7 linked regions of the Homo sapiens genome follow. The protein of the gene in region 1 interacts with the protein of each later gene in a pairwise test. Each region holds a gene or a part of one and is shown on either strand. Other genes may lie near its edges. The genes, in order: TTC3, RAI14, THOP1, SPARCL1, CKAP5, WHAMM and USP28.

Evidence for each region.
Region 2: the proteins of TTC3 (region 1) and RAI14 interact in a two-hybrid assay, tested with the Homo sapiens proteins (one large-scale study listed by BioGRID and IntAct).
Region 3: the proteins of TTC3 (region 1) and THOP1 interact in a two-hybrid assay, tested with the Homo sapiens proteins (one large-scale study listed by BioGRID and IntAct).
Region 4: the proteins of TTC3 (region 1) and SPARCL1 interact in a two-hybrid assay, tested with the Homo sapiens proteins (one large-scale study listed by BioGRID and IntAct).
Region 5: the proteins of TTC3 (region 1) and CKAP5 interact in a two-hybrid assay, tested with the Homo sapiens proteins (one large-scale study listed by BioGRID and IntAct).
Region 6: the proteins of TTC3 (region 1) and WHAMM interact in a two-hybrid assay, tested with the Homo sapiens proteins (one large-scale study listed by BioGRID and IntAct).
Region 7: the proteins of TTC3 (region 1) and USP28 interact in a two-hybrid assay, tested with the Homo sapiens proteins (one large-scale study listed by BioGRID and IntAct).

Annotation. Positions count from the first base shown.
Region 1 is NC_000021.9:37,149,276-37,153,253, forward strand, and holds part of TTC3 (E3 ubiquitin-protein ligase TTC3), read left to right. Parts: intron 1-802; coding exon 803-895; intron 896-1,544; coding exon 1,545-1,609; intron 1,610-2,617; coding exon 2,618-2,754; intron 2,755-3,675; coding exon 3,676-3,978. UniProt on the Homo sapiens protein: E3 ubiquitin-protein ligase which catalyzes the formation of 'Lys-48'-polyubiquitin chains. Mediates the ubiquitination and subsequent degradation of phosphorylated Akt (AKT1, AKT2 and AKT3) in the nucleus.
Region 2 is NC_000005.10:34,809,624-34,813,601, reverse strand, and holds part of RAI14 (ankycorbin), read right to left. Parts: intron 2,591-3,978; coding exon 2,484-2,590; intron 1,836-2,483; coding exon 1,657-1,835; intron 1,423-1,656; coding exon 1,394-1,422; intron 29-1,393; coding exon 1-28. UniProt on the Homo sapiens protein: Plays a role in actin regulation at the ectoplasmic specialization, a type of cell junction specific to testis. Important for establishment of sperm polarity and normal spermatid adhesion.
Region 3 is NC_000019.10:2,809,381-2,813,260, reverse strand, and holds part of THOP1 (thimet oligopeptidase), read right to left. Parts: intron 2,958-3,880; coding exon 2,771-2,957; intron 2,622-2,770; coding exon 2,493-2,621; intron 1,664-2,492; coding exon 1,527-1,663; intron 147-1,526; coding exon 1-146. UniProt on the Homo sapiens protein: Involved in the metabolism of neuropeptides under 20 amino acid residues long. Involved in cytoplasmic peptide degradation. Able to degrade the amyloid-beta precursor protein and generate amyloidogenic fragments.
Region 4 is NC_000004.12:87,522,753-87,526,730, reverse strand, and holds part of SPARCL1 (SPARC-like protein 1 isoform 1 precursor), read left to right. Parts: intron 1-235; exon of another isoform or gene 236-1,378; intron 1,379-3,978.
Region 5 is NC_000011.10:46,794,120-46,798,097, forward strand, and holds part of CKAP5 (cytoskeleton-associated protein 5), read right to left. Parts: coding exon 3,964-3,978; intron 3,851-3,963; coding exon 3,686-3,850; intron 2,822-3,685; coding exon 2,693-2,821; intron 1,658-2,692; coding exon 1,475-1,657; intron 1-1,474. UniProt on the Homo sapiens protein: Binds to the plus end of microtubules and regulates microtubule dynamics and microtubule organization. Acts as a processive microtubule polymerase. Promotes cytoplasmic microtubule nucleation and elongation. Plays a major role in organizing spindle poles.
Region 6 is NC_000015.10:82,808,136-82,812,734, reverse strand, and holds the start of WHAMM (WASP homolog-associated protein with actin, membranes and microtubules), read right to left. Parts: upstream 3,108-4,599; 5' UTR 3,009-3,107; coding exon 2,400-3,008; intron 2,275-2,399; exon of another isoform or gene 2,026-2,274; intron 1-2,025. UniProt on the Homo sapiens protein: Acts as a nucleation-promoting factor (NPF) that stimulates Arp2/3-mediated actin polymerization both at the Golgi apparatus and along tubular membranes. Its activity in membrane tubulation requires F-actin and interaction with microtubules.
Region 7 is NC_000011.10:113,868,935-113,872,912, forward strand, and holds part of USP28 (ubiquitin carboxyl-terminal hydrolase 28), read right to left. Parts: intron 1-3,978. UniProt on the Homo sapiens protein: Deubiquitinase involved in DNA damage response checkpoint and MYC proto-oncogene stability. Involved in DNA damage induced apoptosis by specifically deubiquitinating proteins of the DNA damage pathway such as CLSPN.

The sequences.
Region 1 (3,978 bases):
AGGCTTATGCAGACCACTGTTCTTATTGGGGAAAGAATGAGGCAGTTGTACTAGGCATCTGTTAACAATAGCAATTATTAAAGTATGGTAGAAATAAATTCTCACATTTTGTACATTTTCACATAATTAATTAACAATATAATGATATGAGTAAATAACTGTCACCTTTGAGTCACTTCTGCTATGTCTTTGTCTTACCTAAATTGAGTTTCTCTAGTGATATACCCTCTTTTAGTGGTCTTAACTATTCCCATCATTTTAAATACACTCTGTAAATTAGTCAGCTTTCCCTAGGATATGCTGAAGTGATGCAACCCAAATATCTTGTGGCATACATCAGAGAAGTTTGTTTTTTGCTTACATGACTTGTCCTGCAGTTCTGCAGTTGTTGGCTGGGACTGGGCTGTAGCAGCTTTATTTTGTGTGGCTCTATTCCTTGTTTCTCAATCTAAGTTGAAGAATGACCCTTTTCTGGAACATCTTCCTGTGTCAGAGGAAAAAGAACAATGTCCAGTCTATGAAGTGTTTGTTAAACCTTTTGTCTAGACATGTGTATGTCATGTCTGGTCACTTTGCATTGATGAAAACAAGTCACATGGTCAGACCCACACCTGAAAGTATATTTTTCCTACACGGAAGCCTTAAAATTCGCATGGCAGTGAGTAAGGATTTTCACCACTTGCCTGAAGATGGTTTTAGTCCGTATTTTGACTGTTCCTAGTGGTAAAAATAGTATACGTGTATAGATTTATCCCCCCTAGACATAACATTTTTCTTGTTTTTTTTTTTTTTAATCAAATAGGATTTTCTACAAGGAATATGTCTTACCCCTGACTGTGAAGGTGTCATTTCTAAGATTATCATCTTCAGCAGTGGTGGTGAAGTTAAATGTGAAGTAAGTAATAAAGGGGAAACCTTGTTAGATAGATAACCAAAATGTTTACACCTTTTGAAACATGATTTGAATTTGTAGATATCATGTAATTTGGATCTTTTCCAGGAAAGAAACAATTACTTCATTTAAGAAAATATAGGAAATACTGGGATGTGAGAATGCTTCATTGTAATGAAAGCATTCTTATATTCTTTTATTTCTTAATAGGAAAAGGAGGCTTTTTATATCTTAGTTTTACTATTTTTACTGTTTTTGATAACTTCATTTTCTTAATCCCGGTAAACTTTTGGGCAGTAGTGGGTGTGCAGGTTTTTAGGGAGGGGGAAGAGCGTCTTGAGGGATTACCTTTAACTTCATGACATGGGAATGGCAAGAGTGGGTAGTTGTAATAATATTTACACTTTATTAGATCGTCTGCTTACTCTTAATTTTTTAAAAACTTTTTCCTCAAGTGTGTCTACCCTCTTGTTCCTCTTCAGTAAATTATTTTGCTAAAGCTTTCTGGGCTTTTGTCTGGGTCAGAACATCATCACTGTTCTCTATCAAACTGAACATTATGTGTGCTTCTGAAATACTTGTTACTTGTGGTTTTGTGTTTTATGTCATGGGAGTATGAGACAAATTTTGGATGTCTTTGTTTTATTTAAAGTTTGAACACAAGGTCATAAAAGAAAAGGTTCCTCCAAGACCTATTCTGAAACAGAAATGTTCTAGGTAAGATTTTTAACAATCAATCAGTGGTTTGATGATGTCTCTTAGAATATAATTCTATTAAATGCAGATTTCTAAATTATGCCTTTTTAAAAATTGGCTGTGTATACATATATTCAAATAAGTGTTTTTTAAAATGATTTTTATGGAAAATTAAAACTTAAAGAGAACTAGCCTAGAATGATTAAATACTAAAAACTTGATTCAGAATTATTTATCTAGTGGTTGAATTTACAATTAAAATTATAACATTTGATGCTGTGAAATTACATGTTTGATTAATAGATTTGGCATTTATATAAAAACTATACAGTTTGCTCTCAGTTGTTGAAACTTTAATTCCAAAAGCATATTTTTCTTTTTATCTCTCTTCAGTAAACATTTTGAACCTATGACTATTTTTTACCCTGAAATACTCAATGTACTGTCTAAATTATTACTTCTCTATAGCTTTTTGTTTAGATCAAATAATTCAGATTCTTTTTTCTTTTCTTTTTGGTCCTGCTTCTTGTTTTTCTTTCTAAGAAGTGATTTTTTTTTATCATTTGTGACCAAGAAAAAGCAAAAGAAAAGATGAACAGAATTATTTGTTGGAGAGAATTCATTGTAACCAGATCAACCAAATTATAGTGTTGTGGGTTATTATTGAGATGTGAAAATTATATTTTACTATGGGACCTTTCTTAGAAATGAGAGTTTACATGAATTATTTTGCAGAGTAATTTGTACTATTTCTGTTTACCCTATGAAGTAACTTAGATACATGAAAGTGACATCTATACAATCTGTAGACTGCATCCTTAGACATCACCTAATCATTGAGGTTTTTGTTTTCATGAAACAAGTACCCTTATTTTGACAATACTGACAGTTTCTTACATTGAATGGAAGATGTAGGCCGGGCTCTGATTAAAAAAGGAAAACTTCTAATATATTGCTTGGAAGATGGTTTCTACGATAGTCAAAGGAAAACAGTTCATTGAGTTGTCACTAATTGTAAATGTTTATCAGCCTAGAGAAACTAAGACTGAAAGAAGACAAAAAATTGAAGAGAAAGATCCAAAAAAAAGAAGCAAAAAAGTTAGCACAAGAAAGAATGGAGGAGGACTTAAGAGAAAGTAATCCACCCAAAAATGAAGAGCAGAAAGGTATGCAGAAGCCAAAGGCATGATAAGAATAATATACTCTCATTTAAATGTATAAATGTAAGCATCTTTTGGGCCTTATATTCATCATTATTGAATTGAAATAAAGATTTCACTTAGTAATTTAATACTATCACTGTCTTCTGTTACTCGAAGACAGAATTGGGTTGGTGTAAAGAACACTGAAAAACCTTTCAGAGATTGTATTCCCACTGAAAAACCTTTCAGAGATTGTATTTTAACTTTCTGTGCTTAATGACTAAACATATTTATTGTATATAAAGTTAAGGTAGTTGATGAGGCTGGGTTAGGATTGTTGAAGGAAGTGGCCGTATTTTAGGGGAACTAAGTTGTTTTTTTTTTTTGTTTTTTTTTTTTGAGACGGAGTCTCACTCTGTTGCCCAGGCTGGAGTGCAGTGGCGCGATCTCGGCTCACTGCAAGCTCCGCCTCCCGGGTTCACGCCATTCTCCTGCCTCAGCCTCCCCAGTAGCTGGAACTACAGGTGCCCGCCACCATGCCCAGCTAATTTTTTGTATTTTTAGTAGAGATGGGGTTTCACCGTGTTAGCCAGGATGGTCTCGATCTCCTGATCCACCCTCCTCGGCCTCCCAAAGTGCTGGGATTACAGGCATGAGCCACCACGCCTGGCCTAGAGGAACTAAGTTTCAAATGCTACTACATGAATGGTTCAGAATGAAGGGTGTAAAATGCTTACTTTTGGTATGTTTATTTTAGCGTACACTTTCATGTCTTTTCAAAAGTATTGTTAAGTGTTTATATTTCTAATTAAAGTTTCTTGAGTTTAGTAAAACAGTATAATCAATCTGAATCATATTTTATATTATGTAATTTTGTTATTTCTAAGTTTATGTAATTGTGAATTAGTCCTATTTATCACTTTAACCATTGTTATTTATCCTTAGAAACTGTAGACAATGTTCAGCGTTGTCAGTTCCTTGATGACAGAATTCTACAGTGTATAAAGCAGTATGCTGACAAGATTAAATCCGGCATACAGAATACAGCCATGCTTCTCAAAGAATTGCTTTCTTGGAAAGTTTTGAGCACAGAAGACTATACAACCTGTTTTTCTAGCAGAAATTTTCTAAATGAAGCAGTGGACTATGTTATTCGCCACTTGATTCAAGAAAATAACAGAGTAAAGACAAGAATATTTCTGCATGTTTTGAGTGAGCTTAAAGAAGTGGAGCCCAAATTAGCCGCCT
Region 2 (3,978 bases), on another chromosome or scaffold:
CTGAGCTTATTTTAGAGACTTGGTCATGCTGAAAGTTATCACAGTCCAAAGAATGGAGGTGGGTTAGTTTGGTTAGTAAAGTCTGGGCAAGTAGCTTTATCAAACACATGAGAAAAACCTCAAAAGTTCATACATTTCTTACTTTATCAAAATCTGAAATCTGCTACCAACATAAAAATAAATAATATGCATGCACAAGTATTCTCCTAGCAGCCCATGCTTTAATAGCAAGAAAATAAAAACACATGAGACAAAACCAGATTAGGTTGGTGTGGAGAACTGGGAAAGTAGAGGTTGAGGTCTACTACAACTTAGAATCCAGAATACAATCACAGCCAGCTTTCTGTATTAATGAAAAGCAATGGTATTTCCCACACGTCTGCATTACTTCCATTCCTTTTTTTAAAGACTATAAATATGAGGGAAAGGGATAACTTCATTTTTGAAGGTTACTGGTAAGTAATACAGTTAGCACATAAATTTAGTATTGAGTATTTGCTGTTTATGATTTCTTCAAGAACGTAGATGTGTAAATAAATAAACAACCAAACATATACTGTTCATCAAAAAAACAGATAGTGACAATATATTTTTAGAAAAAACTACACAATAACAGGGCAAACTCAATTTCTACTTTGTGTAACACCACATGACGTTCTAGAAAAACCCTAATTAAAAGAAAAGGCTAAATTCTCTTATTTTCATTAAATAGCTAACATTTTCTGGCTGAAGCTCTGTAGCTCATGTGATATTACAAGTATTTAAAACAGTGTTATTCAGTCACAGAGTTTAAGCCACATCAAACATTTTCACACCAATAGGAAGTATGAGTTAGTACATTTCAGAAAAAGATGAACATATAAGTAGCAAGTTTAAAGTTACATGCTTTTGAAATAAAGCAAATTATTAAGGAAAGCTTTACCACCTTTTTTTTTTGAGACGGAGTTTCACTCTTGTTGCCCAGGATGGAGTGCAATCGTGCAATCTCAGCTCACCGCAACCTCTGCCTCCTGGGTTCAAGTGATTCTCCTGCCTCAGCCTCCCGAGCAGCTGGGATTACAGGCACGCACCACCATGCCCGGCTAATATTGTAATATTAGTAGAGGCGGGGTTTCTCCATGTTGGTCAGGGTGGTCTTGAACTCCCGACCTCAGGTGATCCACCAGCCTCGGCCTCCCAAAGTGCTGGGATTACAGGCGTGAGCCACCGGCCCGGCCTGGCAACCTTTAACACCTTATAACAATGACTTATTTATTCAAAGATATTTCAGTCCCTAAGTATTTTCAATATAGTCTTTATTACTTTACTAGTGGACCAGAGTGGTTAAATCTGAACATTTTTAAATTCCCACAAGCATAAATGAAACATAGAAGCCTCCCCCAAAGATAAATACCTGCTTTGGTTTTGTTGGGGTCTTTAAATCTATAGAGGAAAAAGTGAAAAAAAGAACTATAAGAAGCATAATGATTCATATTCACTTTGGGTGGGGGGATACACACACATACACCATATACAATATTTTTTAACACTCCTTTTTTTTTCAAGAATATGTTTAAAAGAATAATAAAATATATCATATTGCACACATTCCTTTATCCTTTGGGGAAAATGGAGTGGATAAACTTAAAACAACATTGGCTATTTTCTTTTACATACCAGCATCCTGAGAGATTTTTGATAATAGAAGGCTTTGAATTCCTGCATTTTCTGAGAGTTTGGAATAATGTAAGGCATTGTATCCAAGAGAATCTACAAGGTTTAGGTCTGCACCCTTTTTAATTAAGGCTTCCACAGCGTTAGAGCTGCCAATCTCACAGGCCAGCATGAGAGCAGTTCTAAAGGAAAAAAGAGACACAAAATTAGTACTAAGAGAATGTAAAAAGTCTTTCTTGGGAAATCAGTTGTCTTAAAAAAAGAGAAAAGAAGATTAAGTGCAGTTAAACCTTTATTACACTTAATCTTCAGGGAATTCGAAGTGGAATGCAATCAAGATGAAATTAGGTGGTTTTTTTTTTTTTTAAACTTCAGATTAAATCAAAACATTAAACCACATTTTGTCAAACAACACAATCTTCTATACTATTTGGCATAATATGATGGGATTTAATATGACTGGCATGAATCTTATCCTTGTTTTACCTCAAGCATTTTAAATAACATATATATTTCTAAGACCATTTCTCCAAAACAACCAATAGGTTTGTTTTATTTTGCATAGAAAGTCACAGGAAATTGTTTATTCACATTAGCATTTAATAGTCTCCTCACAGACTTAGCCAGCAATGATGTCCACAGATGTCTGGGGAAAATTGCTTTAAAGTCAACATAGATTCTTGATTATCAGAAACAGTAGAACTTTAAAAAGGTAAGAAGTTAAAAATCCCTTATAACAAATGATCCAAAATATAGCTGTGATATTTTGAAATACTCTCAGAATGTGGGTATCACTGAAGTCACATGATTTCTGCCTAATTCTGGAGTACCTTCCACTTTTGTTCCTGGAATTGACATCTGCTCCATGATCCAGGAGAAAGTGACAGATCTCACTGTGACCATTTTGTACAGCAAGAAGCAGCGGTATATTCCCATCCTAGGAGACAAATTCAGATTTAGATTTTACCTCAGGCACAAAATGCCAGAATTGCAAAAGTCAGCCCCTGTTTTTTGCACATTTTTCTCCTGACTTGGACTGCTGACTGCTGATCTAGTATCTGGTCCAACCTGATATTCTGTACCCCTATAGAGTCACGATTGTATGTTGGCACAACTCTTGTTATGGAATTTTACTGAATGCTAGCTTTTACATAGGAGCTCCAGCTTCTTGCGGCTGCTTATGCCCTTGGCTATCACTGTTTGGGTGACTGTGAGAGAGGACAGAACACAAAGTGTGTAAAGGCTCAAGGCAAGTGTACCGGGTATACTGAGGGACGGTGCTGGAGAAAGGAAGGGCGTGTCTCCGCACGACACCAGAAGATCCCACTGCCCTGTAGGCAGCTTATTCCCAGTGCACTAATCATTATATATCCTGCCATTCCACTTTTACCGAAAGTGTACCCTTTAGTAATCTTGCTATGTATCAAAATATAACATAAATTAAGAGCCTATGTCTGTTACTAACACATGACTAGATAAAGAAATGGATAGAAAGAATAATTATGTCATGACAATTGCAACCCCTTTGGGAAAAAGGAAATCTAGGTCTCCAACTCATATACAAACTATGTCAGGTGGATTAAGCATTTAAACATTACAATATAAAACAAATGATGAAAAATACTAGAAGAATATACATAAGTATTTTTTGTAATCTTAGGTCTGACACAAACCATAAAGAGAAGTTGTTATTTTGTTTTTTTTCTGGAATATACCCTATAAATCCATCGACAGTGAGTTTTAAGGTAGAAGCATTCAATAGGCAAAGGGAAAAGATGTTACAATATATCCAACTATTTAAAAATACAAGTGCTACTTAAAGATTGAGTATTGTCATAAAGAATTTCAGATAGATTTCTGGGCACTATCTCTGTGAAGTTATACTACTTTCTGCTTAGGAAGTACTGAACTTCAAGGAATATGAATTTATTTACAGATTCTATCTAGTCACTTCACAGCATCTCCATCAAATATAAGTGTATGCATGTCAGTTCTCATGCTGCAACATGAAATATAACCCCATGACAGAACCATGTGATAGGTATATAAATTTATTCTCAAAGTAGCCTGGTGAAGTTAAAATAGCCTAGTAATGGTCTTCAAAGTTGGGAGATTCTACGTAGAAGTTATCCAAGTGCAGAAAGAAAGTAGTAAAATTTCTATTTAGACTTATTTTTAAAAATCAAGAAATTAAGCTTTATTTGTAATTACATTGATGGTAGAAAACATGTATAGCCGTAGAAATAAATATACCTATATAGGAAATATATGCTGCAAAATGTTTTACTAATGTTTTAGAAGCTAATTAACCTTCTTCCCAGTTTA
Region 3 (3,880 bases), on another chromosome or scaffold:
TCGGGCTCGCAGCCCCCGACCTGCAGCCCCTTGCTCAGGAGGAAGGCGTCCTGCTTGGGGTCACGGCCCAGGAAGCGCCTCAGCATGGCGCTGGCATCCTCGGAACCGCCGGGTCTCAGGATGCAGCTTCTGTAATCCATGCCAACCTGCCGAGGAGACAGGGCACTGTGGCCGGGTGGGGACCCAGGGAGGAAGGCAGAGGACCCCAGGAGTCTGCACACCCTCGCCCAGGGGGGCCTCGGAGCAACCCCTTCCAGGTTCCCAGGGAGGCCCGGGGGCCGCCTGCATCAGCACAGGTGGGAGAGCGCAGGTGCCTTTCATCAGAATCTCAGAGCGGGGGTGTGCACTGAGGGGCCAGCAGAGCCCCGAACTCCCCAAACTCCCGAGGTGGCTCCCGCCATCAGCCCCCACTGAAATCCCAGGCTGAGCCCATGAACAGAAGTGGCTGAGCCTCCGGCTGGACAATGTGGAAGCCGCTCGCGCTCTGGGCCGCCCTAAAGGCCCAGGTTTGAGCCCAGCCCTGTGACTGCGGGACTACGGGCAGGTGAGGCAGATGAGACTGCGAGGCGCCGGTGCCAGCCACCAAGGAGACCCCGACGCCCCAGAGCCCCGCAGGAGCCTGCGCGGACTGCAGGCTGCAGAGCCAGGGAGCCACAGTCCCAGCTCCCACCCGGGGGACTCCACCTCTACAGCCCCCGGCCGGTCCTCAGAGGTGGGACCCCCTCACCTCAGCAGCAGGGGGAGCTGCTGGAGGCTGCCTCAGGAGGGGGGAGGTCCCTGCTGGGCTGTGAAGACAGGGGGCTTGTCGGACCATTGCTCCCCCAGGTCCTGGCCTCTGCACCTCTATAAAGGGAGCAGCTGAGTGCCTGCTTGGTGGCTCCGAGGTACCTGCAGGCTGCCCAGTGCAATGTTGCACCCAGGCAGGGCAGGGCCGGCCCTCAAAGCTGGTAGCCACCTGTTCCTTGTGAGGGACTCTGGCGGCTGTCCCGAGCCTGGGTCACACCAAGTCAGCGGGAGGCACAGGCTCACATGGCGTAACGGCCGCACTTCATAGTGAGGAAACTGGAGGTTGGAGGAGCAAATGAATGGCAAACGCCAAGCCTTCTCCAGAGAAGGGTCTGTCTCAGCCCATGGCTCTGAGGCCGATCACGCAGATCCCGGAAGGACTCGTATGGGAAGACACGGAGCTCCCAGCACTCACAGCCCGAGGCCTGAGGGGCCAGTGTGGAGCTTCCTGCAGGGCCCAGGGAGGAGCTGTGGGCAGCACCGCACCAAGACCAGCAGGTGCCTCGGCCGGGATGGCTCACCCGGCACACCCAGGCCCAGGCCAAAGGTGTGCTTTTCTCGGCCCCACCCTGCTGTTGAGGACGCCCTCCCTGTCCCCAGTCCCCGCGTACCTTGCCGTTCAGGACGCCCTCCCTGTCCCCAGTCCCCGCGTACCTTGCCATTCAGGACGCCCTCCCTGTCCCCAGTCCCCGCGTACCTTGCCGTTCAGGACGCCCTCCCTGTCCCCAGTCCCCGCGTACCTTGCTGTTCAGGACACCCTCCTGCTTGAAGCGCGTGTGGAACATGTCCATGGAATACACCTCGCTCCACAGGTACCCGTAGTACTGGGCGTCGTAGCCACCTGCCAGATGGCCGAAGGTTGCAGGCATGTTGGTTCCTGGGGCGGACACATGGCAGGGTTCACGCTGTAGCCCCCACCCCATGCTCCTCCTCCAGGAGAAGACAACCAGCCAGACTCCTGAGACCCCTGCCCGGAACAGGGAGAAGCTGGAGGATCACGGTGAGGGCCGAGACCAGCTGGATACTTCTAGAACCAGAGTCAGCCACAAAGCGAGGGCCACAAGTCTCCGCCCCCTCTCCTGGAAGGACAGGAGCTCATTTAACGGGGCTGTCAGCTGCCACAGAGCAAAGTCCCCATTTTGAGACTGCGTCAATAAAGCAAGGCACGCCCACGCAACATCACAGGCCACGCTGCTGAAAACGCTTTTGGAAAGATTTTTGAAGTCTATGGAGTGTTAAGCCAGCAAAACACCACCCATGTTAAAATCATGCTGTATTTCCAAATTCTGGATCCTCGCAAGCGTGTGTGAACACACATGCACACAGGACAACAGGTGAGCATGGAAACAGGGCCCACTTCTCATCATTAGGATCGGAAATTCCTAGGCCTTCCTGTACTTCTCCAGGCTTTTTACAAAGCATGTGTCATACATTTCAATCAGGAAAACGCCAGCTTCATTCAAAGCAGAGGCTCCAGGGAACACACTCCTCCTGGGGGCTGGGGCCGCACACCCGTCCCCGACCCTGGGCCTGCAGCTGCATCTCAGCTGGGGCTGTCCCCCGAGGAGCCTGGGACGCGCTCCGTGGCTCCCCAGCAGGGACTCCTGCACTTGCTAAGTGAAGCATGGGGACCAACTCCCTTCACCTTCCCAGGGAAGCAGCTGAGGCTCCAAATTCCAGGGTGTGCCCGGCTCAAGGGTGGCTACCTGGCGTGGCCGGGACCCCGAGGATCTCCTGGCAGAGCCGCGCATACTCCTCGGCGGGGTCTGCGTCCGTCTGCGTGTGCAGGGCCTGGTCCACCTTGGCGAGGACGATCTGGCGCAGGTTGAAGAGGCCTGGGCGGGAGGGAAGGAGAGAGCTGGCCTCTGCACCTGCCCCGGCCCACTCTGCCCAGAGCTCCGACCCCCACCCGGGGCACATGCCAGGCCCCAGCTGTGTGCCGCCCCCCGAGGTTAGCACCCTTCCCCGGACGGGGCGGGTGCACCTGTGTTGGCCTGCCGGGACTCAATGAGCTTCTCCAGGAGCTCCCGGGGCACGGCGCTGCCTGTGCGGTAGTGCCGCGACATCCGCAGCAGCGGCTCCTGCTCCCACACCCAGTTCTCCAGCATCTGCGACGGCGCCTCCACAAAGTCCCGCTCCACGTGGGTCCCGCTGAACATGGCGAACTCCGCCTGCAGGGATGGGGCAGAGCCTCAGAGTGCCCAGGTCCTGCCTAGCCCGTTCCCGCCGGCCTGGCCCGTGTCAGCTGCCACAGTGCAAACAGGGCGAGTGCACAGGTGATGCGCTGGGCCCGGCCCTCCCACCCCAAAACTGGAAAACGACCGGGACCCGGAGGCCCCTGGGCTGCTGCTGGCTGCCGGTGGCAGCAGGACACACCTGAAGATGCCGGCCACATGACCCCGTCCCTGGAGGCCACCCACGCTTCTCCTCTAGCCACAGAGCTGCTGCTCCCTGAAAGCTCCGCACCCCGAGGGGTTGGGACCTGGGGACGGCCAGGTCCGGGTGGGGACGCTGTGAGGCATGCTGCATCTCCCTGCTCGTGTGTGTGTGGAACCTTCCCTAAAAGCACAGCCCTTGACTGAGTCCCGCTGGAACCATGGCAGGCAGCCAACGGCGAGGGAACTCCTGGGTGATCCTCAAGGTCCTCTCTGCAACACCGAGGCTTTTCTGTTCCAAGGACCACGCAGCCACACTCCTTGTCCCGACGGAATGCACCAAGGGACTCGCCGTGCCAGGCGCCAGGGACACGCAGAAAGCAGCATGCAAAGCAGGCCTGCAGGCACGTGCGTGGGCACCTGTGTGAGCACCTGTGTGGATGTGCACACGCGTGTGCTGGCTACGAGTGCTGTGCAAACAGTGTGGCAGGGAAGCCAGGAAAGGTGGACACACGGTCGATCCTCATTCCTGGACTCCGTGTTTTCAAACTCGCCTACTAAGATCCACAAAAACCCCAGAGGCCAGCACTGCGGCGCCCCTGAGCAGACGGTCCTCAGAAGGGCCGCACTCTGTCTTCTCACTTCGGCTCATTTTATGAGCAAGCGTCCTTTTCTCAGTCTAGTGGGGGCACGGTGTTTGCATCTTTCTGCTCTTGGTG
Region 4 (3,978 bases), on another chromosome or scaffold:
TTGTACTTATACGTTTTGCTCTATAATAAAATATGAATGCCAGGTGTATGCCTCTGAGGCAGCACAGCAGAGTGGACAGAGCATGGGCTTCAGAGTCCAATGCATCTGGGCTAGAATCCTGACTCTGCTTCTTACAATCAGTGTAAGCTTTGGCAGTTACTTCCCACCTGCATGACTCAGTTTACTCATCTGTTTAGCAAAATGGGGATAATAATACACACAAATGAGGTCGTTGTAGGAATGAAATGTGATGTTTATTAAATGCCAAGTATAGCACCTGGCAGAGAAGTAAACACATAGGAAAGTTGACTGGTTGCTCATAAGGAATCTCGTATATCAGTGAGGCCTCTGTTACATACTTGCAATGATTTCTCTGGTAGTAACAATGGAGATCAAGAAGGAAATATTCTTTGAATTGCCTTTTTTATCCAAAGAAATGTAAAAGTAAATCGGACACTACTATTTTCCCCTGGTGGGGGGCCTCAACACGAGGTATTTATTACTATGAGACTTCACTGCTGCATCAGTTAGTAGCTTCTTAATGGCCAAGTCAAAGGAAACCAAAGAAAGTGTTCTATGCCAGCTTGCCATTACACAGAGTGAGAAGAAATGCTGCTTTGCTGTCAATTCTGTTTTATTGGCCCACTTGGACAAGAGGGAAAGCCCCCAACATTTCTTCTTTCTTATCTCTTCTAAAGGCAAGAATAGGGCTTTTGACTTGCTCCAGGGGATATTTTTTCCTCTCTAACTGAAATTCAAGTGAAAGAGTCTTTTTTTTGTTTTTTTGTCTTTGTTTGGTGTTTTTGTAAACCTCTCCCCTATGTTCCTAGCATTGAAATGTAAGCTGCTTTTTCTGGCTGCATGTAGCAGGAGCAGGCTGTCGTCATAGCAATGAAAGGGTGTAGAGAGACTCCTGCTTCATGACCTGCTCTGGGAAATAACTCTTAGTCTGCTTTAAAATCCTTCTTTAGAAATGAAGTCTCCAGTCCTGGCTTGTTTCCTTCCTATTACACAACCAACTTATGTACACCCATTGCAGTAGCTAAATGTTTCCTTTAAAGATTTAGTGAATAGGTATTTTAAAAATCAACAAGAGAGCTGCTAAAACAGTGGCTAGTTTACTGTGGCATACAGGGGAAAAACAACTGGGAAGGCAAAGAAAGAGAAATAGAAATGGCCTCACATGATACACATACTGCAGCAAACCCTGCAATAAATCCATTTTTCAAGTTCCCACTGCTTCCTCCCATCTTCACGATGTGCTATGGTGTAGTGGTTATAGAGGGGAATTCTGGGGCAGACTGCCTGGACTTGAATCCTGGCACTCATACCTTCTAGTTGTTTTAATCTAATCCATTCTGTGCCTCTGTCTTCTCATCTGTGAAATAGATATAATAACAGTCATAAAATTGTCATGGGAATTGAATGAGATTGAGCATGTAAGGCATTTATTACAGTATCTAACCCATGGTAAAGGTTGGCTGCTAAGCTCAGGAGCCTCAGTTTCCCCCACTTGTGAAATGTGGATAACAGCTAATTCATAAGATCATTGTATTTTTTTTTTTTTTGAGACAGAGTCTTGCTCTATTGCCCAGGCTAGAGTGCAGTGACATGACCTCAGCTCACTGCAACCTCCACCACCTGAGTTCAAGTGATTCTTGTGCCTCAGCCTCCTGAGTAGCTGGGACTACAGGCATGTACTACCATGCCTGGCTGATTTTTGTTGTTTTAGTAGAGATGGGGTTTTGTCATGTTGGCCAGGCTGGTCTCAAACTCCAGGCCTCAAGTGATCTGCTTGCCTCAGGCTCCCAAGGTGCTGGGATTACAGGTGTGAGCCACCATGCCAAGATGATCATTGTATGATTAACTAAAATAATGAATGTACATGCTCAATAAGTAGTAGTTATTACAATTCTTTTTCATGGTTTTGTTATTGAAACAGCAAGGTTCCAGTCTAGGTCCTGCTGCTCACTTCGTAGAAAGCCAATCACTGAGACAACAAGTATTGCCAATGAAGAAGGCTTTAATCAGGTGCTGCAGCTGAGGAGATGGGAGCACAGTCTCAAATCCATCTCACTAACTGACTTAAACTAGGGGTTTACATAGCAAGGGAAAAATGTAACAATGTGTAAGAAAATAAGAACTAGGTAGGGGTAAGGAAACAATCATGGTGAATAAGCGGTCAGGCATCTGCTGCAGTGATCTGGTGAGTTTCCATTCTTTTATACTTTTTTAGAAGCCTGAAGGTCCTGTCCTGAGGAAGGAACTTAGATAAAACAAATATAAGTTTCACACTTTAAGACCAGGAGGGTCAACTTCTATGTTTTTCAAAAAGATCTGTCTGTGGGACTATTGGGTAAGTTTCAGTTTGATCTAACTCTGACATGAATGGCCTTTTTGAACTTAGAATTCCCAGTGAGTCAAATATAATGAATAGAGGCCTCAGAATTATCATTGCATAAATGTGAACCATTTGATTTCTACAGGGGGAAAAAAAAGAATTGTGACTTTTTACATTTATAAAGACTCATCTCATCTTGATTAACACCAGGGTAAAAAGTATTAAAACATCTTATCTTTCATTAACTTTTTATTACGTTTCTGTTTCAGTTCCTCCAGTGTTTTCTAGGTCATGCAATTATGAAAATAAGTTAGCATTTTTATCTTACATCTCAAACAACTAATGTATTCAGTGTTCTATCCCATGCAAAATTCCAGAAATGCAGCAAGGAGCAAAACTAGAGAGGGGCTGAGCTCTTGTGGTGCTTACTATGTAGTTATGAAAATGGTCATTAATCAAACCATCACAATAATGAAAACTGCATAGGACCAAACATAAGGTGCCCCCAAATACAATGCCATCTTCATCTTTCTAGTGAGAACATCCTCAACCAAAGTGTTTGGCCAAACAGCATGTACAAATGGGTAATATATTGTAATGTACACTTGGGATATTTAATCTATGGTTCACATACATATTTAATATGTTACTTTAATTTAAATATTTTATACTTATTAACATGACTTTTTCCTTTCTCACATTTCATGAAACAATTTTGTTAAAACTCTTCATACGCATCTTTAACACCAATGTGTATGTTCACTGGATCCACGCTGTAATTATCTAATACAGAGCACATCATCAATCCTTCTGCAAGTTGCTAAACATCTGCTGATGCTGCAAATTTAATCCCCAGGCATTAGTCCTCACTCGTGGTCATGTTCTCCACACTTTCATTACTGACTAGATTGTTTTTCCAGTGCTTTTTAAAGGGCGTATTTAAAAACCACTTGAAACTGTAAGTGTGGCTTTCTAAAACTATGTGATTCCAACTTGCAATAATGAAGTCATACCTCAGGAATAATGACTAAACCTGCTTTAAATATCTTTATCTATTTTTTCATCCATTTTGTCAAGGTGACCTTCCTAAGAATAAAAATAAGCATTGCTTGAGATTTTTTTTTTTTTTGAGACAGAGTCTCATTCTGTCACCCAGGCTGGAGTGCAGTGGTGTGACCTTGGGTCCCTGCAACCTCTACCTCCTGGGCTGGAGCAATTCTTCTGCCTCAGCCTCCTGAGTGGCTAGGATTACAGGTGTGCACCACCACGCCTGGCTAATTTTTTGTACTTTTAGTAGAGACAGGGTTTTGCCATGTTGGCTAGGCTGGTCTTGAACTCCTGACCTCAGGTGATCACCCACCTCGGCCTCCCAGAGTGCTGGGATTACAGGCATGAGCCACTGTGCCCAGCTCTTGAGATGATTTCTAATTGTTTTTTTGAATAGTACTTTGCTGCTCAAAATGAAGAAACTTTGGAAGCACTTGAATATAAGTCAAATCCCTCTTTTTTACGGCAGGATTTGGTGGCGTGAGAAAAAACACATTTTATTTGAACACATGCCATATATAATGATACACTGAAATAAGTGTTATGAAGGCAAAACACCTTTGTTCCAAGAGAGTATATAAGGATCCTGA
Region 5 (3,978 bases), on another chromosome or scaffold:
TAAGACCTAAAACTATAAAATCTTTAGAACAAAATAGAGGGCAAAAGCATCATAAGCCTGGGGGCAGTGGCTCAGGTTTGTGATCCCAGGAATTTGGGAGGCGGAGGCAGGAGGATTCATTGAGCCTAGGAGTTTGAGACCTGCCTGGGCAACACAGTGAAACCCGTCTCTACAAAAATATTAAAAAATAAAAAATCAGCTGTGTGTGGTGGCACGTGCTTCTGGTCCCAGCTACTCAAAAGGCTGAGGTGGGAGGATTGCTTGAGCCTGGGAGGTATGCTGTGATTGTGCCATTGCACTCCAGCCTGGGGAACAGAGTGAGACCTTGCCTCAAAACAACCCAATTCAAAAATGGGCAAAGAACTTGAGTAGATATTTTTTTCCAAGAAGAACTATACAACTACAGATTGCCACCTGCACATGAAAAGATGCTCAAGGCCAGGCTTGGTGGCTCATGCCTGTAACCTCAGCACTTTGGGAGGCCAAGGCAGGAGGATCACTTGAGGCCAGGAGTTCAAGACTAGCTTGGGCAACACAGCGAGGCCCTCTATAAAAAATTTTTAAAAATAAGCTGGGTATGGTGGCAAGTCCCTGTCATCCTAGCTACTTGGGAGGCTGAGTGAGGAGGATCACTTGAGCCTGGGAGTTCCAGGTTGCAGTGAGCTATAATCGCACCACTGCCCTCCAGCTTGGACAACAGAGCAAGACCTTGTCTCTAAAAAATATAGAAAATAAAAACAAAGTAGTCAAATTCATAGAAACAGAAAGAAGGGGCTGGAAGAAGCTGAGAATGGGAGGATAGTTAATTGATTCATAGAGTTTCAGTGTTAAAACATGAAAAGCATTACGGCAATGGATTGTGGTGATGCTGCACAACATTATAAACATACTTAATATTAATGAACTGCACATTAAAAAGTTAAGACAGACCAGGCACGGTGGCTCACGCCTGTAATCTCAGCACTTTGGGAGGTCAAGGCGGGTGGATCACCTGAGGTCAGGAGTTCAAGACCAACCTGGCCAACATGGCAAATTCCCATCTCTACTAAAAATACAAAAATTAGCCTGGCATGGTGGCACGTGCCTGTAATTCCAGCTACTGGGGGGCTAAGGCAGGAGGATCACTTGAACCTGGGAGGCGGAGGTTGCAGTGAGCCAAGATTGCATCACTGCACTCCAGCCTGGGCAACAGAGCGAGACTCCATCTCAAAAAAAAAAAAAGTTAAGATAGTAAATTTTATGTTAAATTGACAAAACACACTTCTGTGCCTTCATCACCATTTTTATCTCTATTAAAGCTCCAAACAGCTGAATTTATTGCTGGAATATCCTATCTTCATTAACAGATTTTCTGCTGTATTTTTAATGTGGCCAATGAATTCATTTCTCAAACAAAATAATTTTAGAGGAACAACCACGAACCTGAGACTCAGACCCTTCCTTACTAACTTCTATTTTTAAATAATCTATTAACCTTAGCAGCAGGTGCCTTTTTTAGAGGTCCTGGTTTGGGTGCAGAAATGTCCTTTGTGTCCTTATCTCCTGCAGCCCCTGAAGCAGCAGTCCTTCCAGGCAGAGGTTTGAATTCCTTCTTATCAGCAGCTAGTCCAGCTTTCTTACCATGTATCAGTTCTACCTTTTCTGAACATTCTTTGATCTGGAGAATGAAAGTGAGATGAACATCATTAAGCCCAACTTTGAAACACAACCACTACGTTATTACATTTCTAAACCACAACTACACATAAGAATTCAGAGAAATGGCCAGGCAAGGTGGCTCACACCTATAATCCTAGCACTTTGGAAGGCCGAGATGGGTGGATCACTTGAGGTCAGAGGTTTGAGACCAGCCTGGCCAACATGGTGAAACCCCATCTCTACTAAAAATAAAAAAGTTTAGCCGGGCGTGGTGGCAGGCGCCTGTAATCCCAGCTACTTGGGAGGCTGAGGCACGAAAATCATTTGAACTCAGAAGGCAGAGGTTGCAGTAAGCTGAGATTGTGCCACTGCACTCCAGCCTGGGTGACAGAGTGAGATTCATTGCCAAAAAAAAAAAAAAAAAAAAAAAATTTTCAGAGAAAAAATTTCCCTTTCAACAAAAAAGATAAATTATCTACACTTTTTTGGCAGTAGATAGACATACGTAAGATATTAATCTTACATTTTATTTCTTTACAAATTAGAATTGTAATAAACTTAAAATGACCACATTGTTTATGGAAGACATTCACATATAAGAAGGTAATTTTCTGGACCTTAGAAATAAATTTATCTCACAGAACTGTTTTCACCTTCTCTACAGATTGGTCACTCAGCTTTTTTTCGGTTATAATTTGAAAGCTATTTCTACAATTATCACCATCATAGCCTGGAATGAAACTTAAATTCTCAAAAGCTAAGTTTTCAAACTCGGTCTGAACTATCAGTGGAGGATGAAATAAATTTCCTGAGGTGATATCAGCATTTTTTTCTTAATAAAACAACAGACAAAATTGAAGACAAAAAGTACCAGAGAGCATCCTCCAAAACTTGTTTCAATTATGCATTTCTTTCCTACTATAAATGGCAATTTAAAAAAAATCAAGAACTCCTCATCAAAACTACCAGTACTCTATAACTGTCAAGAGACAAAGCCATGATGCAAAGAGACAGGAATGTTGTCCAATTTCAGTCCAATCCATTACTAACCTACCTTATCAAGCTTGAGTTTGTCCACATCAGCTAGGAATGGGTTTACTGCTTTCTCGCCAACCACCTTCAAAGCAGTACCCAATGCTTCAAATGCGGCATCTCTGACTTCAGGAGCAGAATCATTGATGTGCTATAGTCCAGAAGTAAGCAAAATGATATTAATGCAAGGTATTTTAGGCATTACTCATTTTAATTCAGACTGATGGTTGCTAGATAAAGAATTTGCTTTTTACAATTTACTGGAACTAAGTATAGCTTTCCTTGTGCCAATTGACAGTTACTCTTTCAAAAATTCTTTTTGGGCCAGGCACAGTGGTTCATGCCTGTAATCCCAGCACTTTGGGAGGCCAAGTTCGAGACCAGTCTGGCAAACATGGTGAAACCCCATCTCTACTAAAATACAAAAACTAGCCGGGCGTGGTGGCACATGCCTATAATCCCAGCTACTCAGGAGGCTGAGGCAGGAGAATTGCTTGAGCCTAGGAGGCAGAGGCTGCAGTGAGCCAAGATTGTGTCACTGCACTCCAGCCTGGGCAACAGAGCTAAACTCCATCTCAAACAAAACAAAAACAACAACAACAAAAAAAAAAAAACAAAAATTTTTCGGGTTAAGGAAACCCTTGGTAATCCATTTAGCAAATAAGTATTTCCTTTTCCTCTTACCCTCTATCTAAAATAACTCACTCCCAAATGATCTTCAAATACTCCACATTTGATGCCTATGCTTGGCCAGATTCAGCTGAACACCAGTATATGGGACAAGTAAGAAACAACATGTTTAACAGTTAATGGAATCATAACACTAACTTGTGCTTTCTTTCAAGAAGAGGAACACAGGAGAATTTGGATTCAGTTTCCAAGCTGCAAAGGCTCTGCTCCTCAAAAGATCATAACCTCTATAGTCTGAAAGTCAAGTAGTCACTGTACATAATTTGCAGGAAAAGAATCTTGCCTAGGTATAAAATATTCCCCCAACTTCAAAGAGAGTCTGTACCTTAAGTAGTGCAGCACAAAAGGGCTTTAGCAAGCTCTTTGGCAGGGTAGAAGCAGTGCAGTGGCGGAAACTTCTTGCAATAAAAAGAGATGTCTGCTGCTTGATGGTTGGATTTTTATTATCCATTACTGCTAAAACATCCTCACTGATGTTCTGTAGTGTGGTCTTTAGAAAGAAAATGTGGTTAATGAGCTTTTTTCAATTGTAAAGAACAATCAAAATATTATATTTACAAACTTTACTTCAGATAAAACTACAAACTCATGCTGTCAACTTACAGTAAGGAAGATTGC
Region 6 (4,599 bases), on another chromosome or scaffold:
GCAACAAGAAGGAAACTCCATTTCAAAAAAAAAGACACTTTTATAATATTAAATGGAGAGGCAGAGTGCAAAGTTTAATCTCAACTATGCACTAAGTATGCAGCGAAAGGGACCCAAAAGAAGGTTTGAGGTTGTGGATATTTTTTCATTTCACTTTTCTGACTGTAAAGGTGTTGTGAGGCTGTATTCCTTTTTAAAGCTCGTAAGGGCCAGGCGTGGTGGCTCACGCCTGTAATCCCAGCACTTTGGGAGGCTGAGGTGGGCGGATCACGAGGTCAGGAGATCGAGACCATCCTGGCTAACACGGTGAAACCCTGTCTGTACTAAAAATACAAAAGATTAGCCGGGCGTGGTGGCGGGCGCCTGCAGTCCCAGCTACTGGAGAGGCTGAGGCAGGAGAATAGCATGAACCCGGGAGGCGGAGGTTGCAGTAAGCCAAGATGGCGCCACTGCACTCCAGCCTGGGCGACAGTGCCAAGACTCCATCTCGAAAAAAATTTTAAAAAAAGACCTCATAAAACATTACAGAGCTGTCTCCAAGTACTTCAGCATGTTGATTCTCTTAATGCCCCAGATTAATATTCCCATGAAGCCCTTAGCAGTCACCTCATTTACAGAGCCTCAACTGTGGTTCCAGTCTCTGCTGGTTACTGCTTCTGCTGCAGGGCAGAAAATAAACTGAACAGTGTATAATCTAGGTGGACTCACTTGGCAGGAAATTATTTTACTCCCAGAAGAAGAGAAATAAAATCAAATAATATAGATTTTTTTCAACCAATACATTCTTAAATTCTCCTATTTCCATCCTTCTGCTTAAGGATAAAGTGATCTACTTTCAGCTATAGTTTTTTATCCAGGTAATAATATTATGGGTTTTTTTTTTAAGTGAAAGCCTCACTGAACAAAATCAAAACACACACGCAAAAGTAAACTTAAGGCAAGTGATACATTTCAGCCTTATTTCTTAAACTATTCAGAAAAATTCCAGAGTTAAAACATTCAGCTTCATTTTATATATCCTAGCAATACTAGCAATTGGTCTAATTCTAGAATCAATTGCTTTTCCATTCTAAATATTAAAATTATATATTTGAACACGTTTTGAATTTAAGCTTCCTCTCCCAACCCCTCATTTTTAAGTTCCAGATAAATATGTGAACTACACTAACGTGAACGGCTAGCTCAACAGTATGAACTACATTCATGCTATAGTACCCCAGAGTGAACTTAAATTTGGGAAAACTATAACTTTTCTGATAGTATTTACTACAGTAAAATACATCATAAACATGTTCGATTTTAAGGAGAAACCACCTATCTCTGTGAGAAACCGAGTGTGTAAAAAACAAGTCTGATACAAAATGATATCATTTTTGAAACTCCCCTGTGGGTTCCTCATATCCTAAGGTGAAGACGATAAAGTTGAAGATCAAACGCTGACTGGCCTGAAACTCCCCTGTGGTTTCCTCATATTCTAAAGTGAAATCAACACGAGAAGTGGGTGTGTAGATATTTACACATAAAACCCACAGTACAAAAATGACCCCACTAACGAGCTCCTTTTATAAAACCATTTTAATTTGGAAAGCTTATTCTACATTTAGCTTAGGCTGAATTCTTCTCTTCACTTCCCCTTCCTCAGAAGAATGCACAGAAAAAAATCATTCAGGTTAATAACAGCAGTGAGCCGAGACTCCAGCCTGGCTCTCCTTAATAAACTGTGGGTGTGGACTTAGAAGGCATATTTTCTCCTAAACCCTTCTGTGAACTTGTACTTCCCCTCCCCTTAGGTTCAGTAAGTTTACCACTCAAATAATTACTCTCTCTCAAACTACCTCTTTCAAGCTTAAAAGGGCACTAATGCGGTCATTCCAAACTGATGAATAAAGTTCACCTTCTGCCGGCTTTCCATTTGACCAAGTATATATTACTTAAAACAAAACACCCTATCTCCTAAAAGCCATTTCTTCCTCTAAACCATTTTATCCCATTTGCGACGTCCCCTCATACACAGGAATTGCTTACATTTAGTCCGTGTTATTCTTTCCTACATGGATGGGTTGTTTTCAGTCTTGCTTGCAATATTTCTGGCATTTCCTGTTACAACATCCTGCTCTGCCAGCATCTTCAGGGCAAAAGTTGGGGGCCTAGCCCAGCTCCCAGCTGCAAGTACACTAGGCTCTAACTTCGCTTGTCCTCTCTGCAGACCCTCCCGCAGCTCCCGCCGGTTTCCCGCAGCGGTCCCGCGCAGGTGACGGCACTGGGGAGCCCGCGGCCTTCTCCGCCCGCCGGCTCCTCCCCGTCAGCCGTCAGCCAGGGCTCTCGGCGCCGGGGGAGCCTCCCACAGTGTCCCAGGCCATGGAAGCGCGGACGAACGCCGGCGACCGGGCCTCGCTTACCTGGCGCAGCCGCGCGTCCGCCTCGACCCACCGCGCGCGCAAGGCCCGCTCCCGGAACTCGCGCGGGCTTTCGCAGTCGGCCGCGCCGCCCTCAGCCGGGAAGAGTGCGTCGCGCACTGTGGCGCCGCCGCAGCCGTCGGCCGCCGCGCCCAGATAGCGTTCCAGCTGCCCGCACAGCTCCTGCAGCGCCGCCTCGCCGGGACCCGCGCGCGTCGGCCACAGCAGCGCCCACAGCCCGAGCCCCAGACCCCAGGCCCCGCCGCCGCCCACGTCCAGCTCCGGCGGCAGCCGCGGGAAGCAGCGCTCCAGAGGCGGCCACAGCGCCGCCAACTGCCGGTGCGCGCCGCGGAGCCCCGCGGCCGAGAGCAGGCCGGCCCAGCTGGACGGGGAGACGGCGGCCTCAGGCTTGGGCTCGGGCTCGGGCCCCAACCGGGCCCCCTCGCGCAGCCGCCGCTGCTGCGCGGTACGGTCGTGACAAGTCACAGCGAACTTGCCCTCCGCGCCGTTCCAGGCCACCAGGAAGCGCAGCCGGTGCCTCTCGGGCTCGGCGAAGAGGCCCTCCCGGACCGGCACCCAGCCCTCCAGGCTGTCAGGCTGCTCGTCCTCCATGGCTGTCGGCAGCAGCGGCCCTAGGGCTCGGCGGGCGCGGGCCTGGCCTCCTCGCACCGCCTGTCACGGGACAGTCCGAGCCAAATCATTTTTCGCTAGAATCGAAACCGCGTCAGTGCCCCAGCAGCACCCTGGCCCCCGGCACTTCTGATTGGCTGGCTGCCGGAGGTGGGGCTTACAAGAGGCATTCGGGGTTGGTTGGGTGATAGACGAGAGGGCCAGCGACAACCAATGAAAAGGTGAGAAGGTCTCCCTCAGGAGTCAATCATCTCGCAACCTGTTCAGGAGTCTGGGAAATACAACTCTTGCCTCACCTTTTCCACCCAATACATACGGACGTTGGAAAAATATCTGTTGAATCGGCGAGTTATTGTATTAGTCTCCCACACTAAACTATGAACTTGAGAACAGGGACCAAGCTGATTTTCTTTTCTATCATCAGGGCCCTATTGAGTACATGGTTCACGCCCTTAAGAATGTCACAAATGCGTTGGGGAGATGAAATATAAACTCGATAGTCATTTATTGAGGGCCTCTAAGTGCCAAGTACTGGGCAAGAAGCCGCAAATTTATTTTTGTCAATTCAACAAACTTTTATTGAGTGTCGGCTGTGTGTCAGTATTGAGGGGGTGGAGTAAGAGGGGGAATTCAGGGCACTGCAGCTCCCAACCAGGGTGTTTAAATACAATCTGTGTTCTAACTCTTCACTTTAGAGTTAAGGAAACGGAGGCCCAGACAAACTTAAGATACACCGACACTCGGGCTCGACATGCCCCCCTGGCTACGGAAGGCCTGTTTAAGGAGATATCAGGAAATCCAGTTTACGTGTCAGGGTGGAGCTAAATCTGTTCATGCAACAAGCACCAAGACGGCCCTAGTCTCTGCCTAGGAAATGTGCAGTGTAGACTGAGAAATACAGTCCATGTCAGCTCCCATCCTGGGAGTGCACTGAGACAGGTGGTGGGAATGGGAGGAGGAAAGGAGGGAGATGCCAGGAAGCTGGGATCAGGAGCCGTTTGCCAAAGCAAGGCCTGTGAGGTGTTGATTCGGGAACAAGTGAAAGTGTTTGTGAAGGTTTTGAGCTGGGAAAAGTTGGAATCAGATTTTGTACTTGCTGTTATCCCCAAGGGTAAACAATAAGCAAACGAAAAAATCAGGGCGAAGCTAAAGCTCTAGTTAGGGCATCTCTCTGCCTTGAAAATGACCTCAAGAAATCTAGGAACCTCTGTGGAATGCAACTTGAAGATGGAAAGGTGCCTTTGTCTGAAGGTCCCTCCCCTTTTATGCCTGCTGCCGGTGTGAGGGTTGGGGATTGGGCCCTGGGACTCAGTCACTCAGTCTTCTTGGAGAGATAAACTTTTAGCTGAAGTGATTGATTTTCCCCTATTTTAATATACTATTTTAACTAATATGAGTTACTTATGATTTTTAACAGTCTGTTTTAAATATCTTTCTTGTATATTCCTCACATTATATCTTTTTACTATCTGCTTTATACTGTGTTATTTCTGTTAGTTTTCTTATCTATTTGGTTTTTCAAGCGGAAACTGTCAATCTTTCTAATTATAAAATTGTCGTGGGTGGCTGGGTG
Region 7 (3,978 bases), on another chromosome or scaffold:
AAAAAAAGACAAAAGAAAGAAAAGGAATAAATAAAATAAATCTCATATGAGGCCCTTATAAGGCATACTAACATCTGAGGTCAGGCACGGTGGCTCATGCCTGTAATCCCAGCACTTTTGGAGGCTGAGGCAGGATGACTTGGTTCATAAGTTTGAGACCAGCCTGGGCAACACAGAGAGACCCCATTGCTAAAAAAACTTTTAAAATTAACCACAGGCTGGGTTCGGTGGCTCACGCCTATAATCCCAGCACTTTGGGAGGCCAAGGCAGACGGATCACCGGAGGTCAGGTGTTCAAGACCAGCCTGGCCAACATGGTGAAACCCCGTCTCTACTAAAAATACAAAAATTAGGCGTGGTGGCATGTGCCTGTAATCCCAGCTACTTGGGAGGCAGAGGCAGAAGAATCAATAGAACCCGGAAGGCGGGGGTTACAGTGAGCTGATCTCACGCCACTGTACTCCATCCTGGGCAACAGACTGCGGTCCGTCTCAAAAAATAAAATAAAACAAAAGTAGCCAGGTGTGGTGGTGCATACCTGTGGTCCCAGCTACTCAAGTGTCTGAGGATTGCTTGGGTCTGGGTGGTCAAGGCTGCAGTGAGCCTTGACGGTGTCACCACACTCCAGCTTGGGTGACAGAGTGAAACCCTATCTCAAAAAACAAACAAGACATCTCAGTTTCCTCATCAGTAATAGGGTAATAGTTCACACCTTGCTGGGTTTTTGTAAATAAAAATGTATGGAAAAGTGCTTAGGGTGGTACATAGCATATGGCAGACACGAGTAATACAAGTGTACATTCCCATGCCTAGTATAACAACCCTGGGAAAATAAGTATGAAGCAAACGTTTATAGCCAAGGAGGTTGATATTCAAGCAGACCTGTTCAAAAAGCACTGGGAAACAGAGTATAGAAGTCATTTGCAACTCAGGATTAGAAATGTAGATTTGGAGCCAGGTGTTCACGCCTGTAATCCCAGCACTTTGGGAGGCTGAGGTGGGCAGATCACCTGGGGTCAGGAGTTCAAGACCAACCTGACAAACATGGAGAAACCCTGTCTCTACTAAAAATACAAAATTAGCTGGGCATGGTGGTGCATGCCTGTAATCCCAGCCACTCGGGAGGCTGAGGCAGGAGAATCACTTGAACCCAGGAGGCGGAGGATGCAGTGAGCCAAGATCGTGCCAATGCACTCCACCCTGGGCAACAAGAGCGAAACTCCGTCTCAAAAAACAAAACAAGAAAAAAGTAACAGCAAAAAAGTGGTAATGAGGGATCATAAAAGCATAAAATAATAAAAGTATGAGGGGGCCAGGTGTGGTGGCTCATGCCTGTAATCCCAACACTTTGGGAGGCCAAGGCAGGAGGACTGCTTGAGCCCAGGAGTTCAAGACCAGCCTGGGCAACATAGCAAGACCTCGTCTCTATAAAAAATTAAAAAAACAGCCAAGTGCGGTGATGCACGCCTGTGGTCCCAGCTACTCAGGAGGCTGAGGTGGGAGGATCGCTTGAGCCTAGGAGGTCAAGGCCAAAGTGAGCTATAATCACATCGCTGCACCCCAGTCTGGGTGACAGAGGGAGAGATCCTGCCTTGGCAAAGTAGGCTGCTGAGCAGATTCTGATTACATAAAACCACTCACTGCCTTTCAACCTAACCTGCTGCTGCCTAGTCAGTCCCTCTGCAGGCCTCTGAACAATCAGCCATTTGCTGGAGCCCAGACTGGTCCACACGGCCATCTCATTATTTGGCTTTTGCAGAAGCTGTTATTGCCACCTTAAGCTCTGTAGCAGAATCTGGGAACCAACCTTCCTCAATCTCCTGTCAGCTAAGAGTTAGTCTTGCTCAAGTCTGTCTTTTCCAAGTTTTGTATATTGAGTCTGAATACATTGTCACTGGAAAAATGTTTTAGAAATGAAACAGGTGGGGTTAGAAACTTTGTTCCAAAAGCAAACAAGAGGAGGAAGGTGGAGACAACAGCTGGACTGGGCAATAGACACTTTTGTTGTTGTTATTTGGTTTCAAGATAGAGGACAAGTGCACGGTAAAATGGAAAATGCAAATTCAAAATGTAATATGCAAATGAATCACCCAAGAATCTTGTCAAAAGGCAGAAACTGATTGAATAGGTCTAGAGTGGGGGTACAGGCAGTGGTATGCTGATTGGCAGTGTATGCTTGTTTCCTTGGTATAAATATTCCCACCTTGGCACAGTTATCAACACGAGGTCATTGAACACAGAGCTGGAAAGAGATGTACAAAATCAGCTGGAGAGGCAGAGCAAGCTGGCTCTAGCACACTCAACTTTCTGCATGTCTAAATCCTAGGGGATGTGAATGCTGCTGGTCTGTGGACCATAATGTGAGTAGCAAGGGAGAAGACAGTGAAGGTGTCTGGGGGTTAGACTAGGACTAAGGAGAAGGGACATAATAGAAAGAGAAGAGAGACATCATCTAGATCAGAGTTTGTCAAGCTCAGCACTATTTTATACAATTTACACATAACTCTGTTTAGAGGGGCTTACTCCTGTACACTGCAGGATGTTTAGCAGCATTCCCGGCTTCTACGCACTACATTCCAGTAGCATCCTCCCTCCAGAGTCACAATCAAAGTCTCCAGACATTGCCAAATGCTTCCTAGATTACAAAATCTCTCCCTAGTAAAAACCATTAATCTAGGTTTATCTCTAAGAAATGAAAGGGGGAAAAAGGAAGGGAACCTTTTCCACTGAAATAAGAGAAAAGAGATGAGATGGCGTAGGGAGAGGGGGACAAAACAGAAGGCAGGGAGCTCTTTTTAGACATCAGCGAGCTCAGTCAAGTAGAAAAGAAGATTATCTATTTAGAAAGACTGTAGGGAGGACTGGAAGTTTAAAACATTAGGAGAGTTCTAGAAAAGGCATTATAAGAGTAGTGGAAAGTCTGTGATCCAGGGCAATGGGCCCATCAACTATGAGATAGGACCAGGGGCGCCTTGGGCTCTTGGGGTCAGAACTGCCTAGATACAATTCCAACTGTACCATATCCTCACTGGGTGACCTTGGACGAATTACTTAACAAGTATAAGCCTTCTCATAGAAACTTCATGGAGTTGTGTAAGTACTGAGAGAATGCTATGTTAAGTTCTGAGCACCGAGTCTGGCACATAGTGCATGCTCAATTAGCATTAGCTATTACTATTACCAGCATTATTTTCCTTGTTAAGTACTTGCTTCATTTTACTATTGATTTAATTTCTTTGATGAAACAGAACACATGGAGAGATCTCGCCTGGTAAGATGCTATTTGCCAGTAAGTCTTAAAAATACTGTTTGCAGACCGAGGCGGGCGGATCATGAGGTCAGGAGATCGAGACCATCCTGGCGAACACTGTGAAACCCCGTCTCTACTAAAAATACAGAAACATCAGCCGGGCGTGGTGGTGGGCACCTGTAGTCCCAGCTACTCAGGAGGCTGAGGCTGGAGAATGGCATGAACCCGGGGGGCGGAGCTTGCAGTGAGCAGAGATCGCGCCACTGCACTTCAGCCTGGGCAACAGAGCGAGACTCCGTCTCAAAAAAAAAAAAAAATACTGTTTGCATTTGGGGGCAGAGGGGCATGAGAGTTGTGGAACCAATCACTGACTTACTGATGTTTTAAAAATCAGTTAATGAGACAAAAGGAAACGAAAGGTCAATAAATCAAGAGAAAGCAAAAAGGGCATTAAATTTTCACTGAAACTGGCAGGTTTTTATAAGGCTTCAGCTGACATAAAGAATGTGTGATGTGAACCCTCAGTACAGCTGCCAAGAATGACAGGTTTATAAGAACCAAACTGACTTCAAGTTGTTTCTCCTGTAATAACAGTAAATTTTGCTGCTATCGAAGTCAAGAATTGATTAAAATACAGGAATCTGTCACTATGTAACCTCTTTAGATATTCGAATACCAGTTTGCAGTCTAGAGGATTTAGTGAAATCATAAAGTGTCTACTCTCAGAT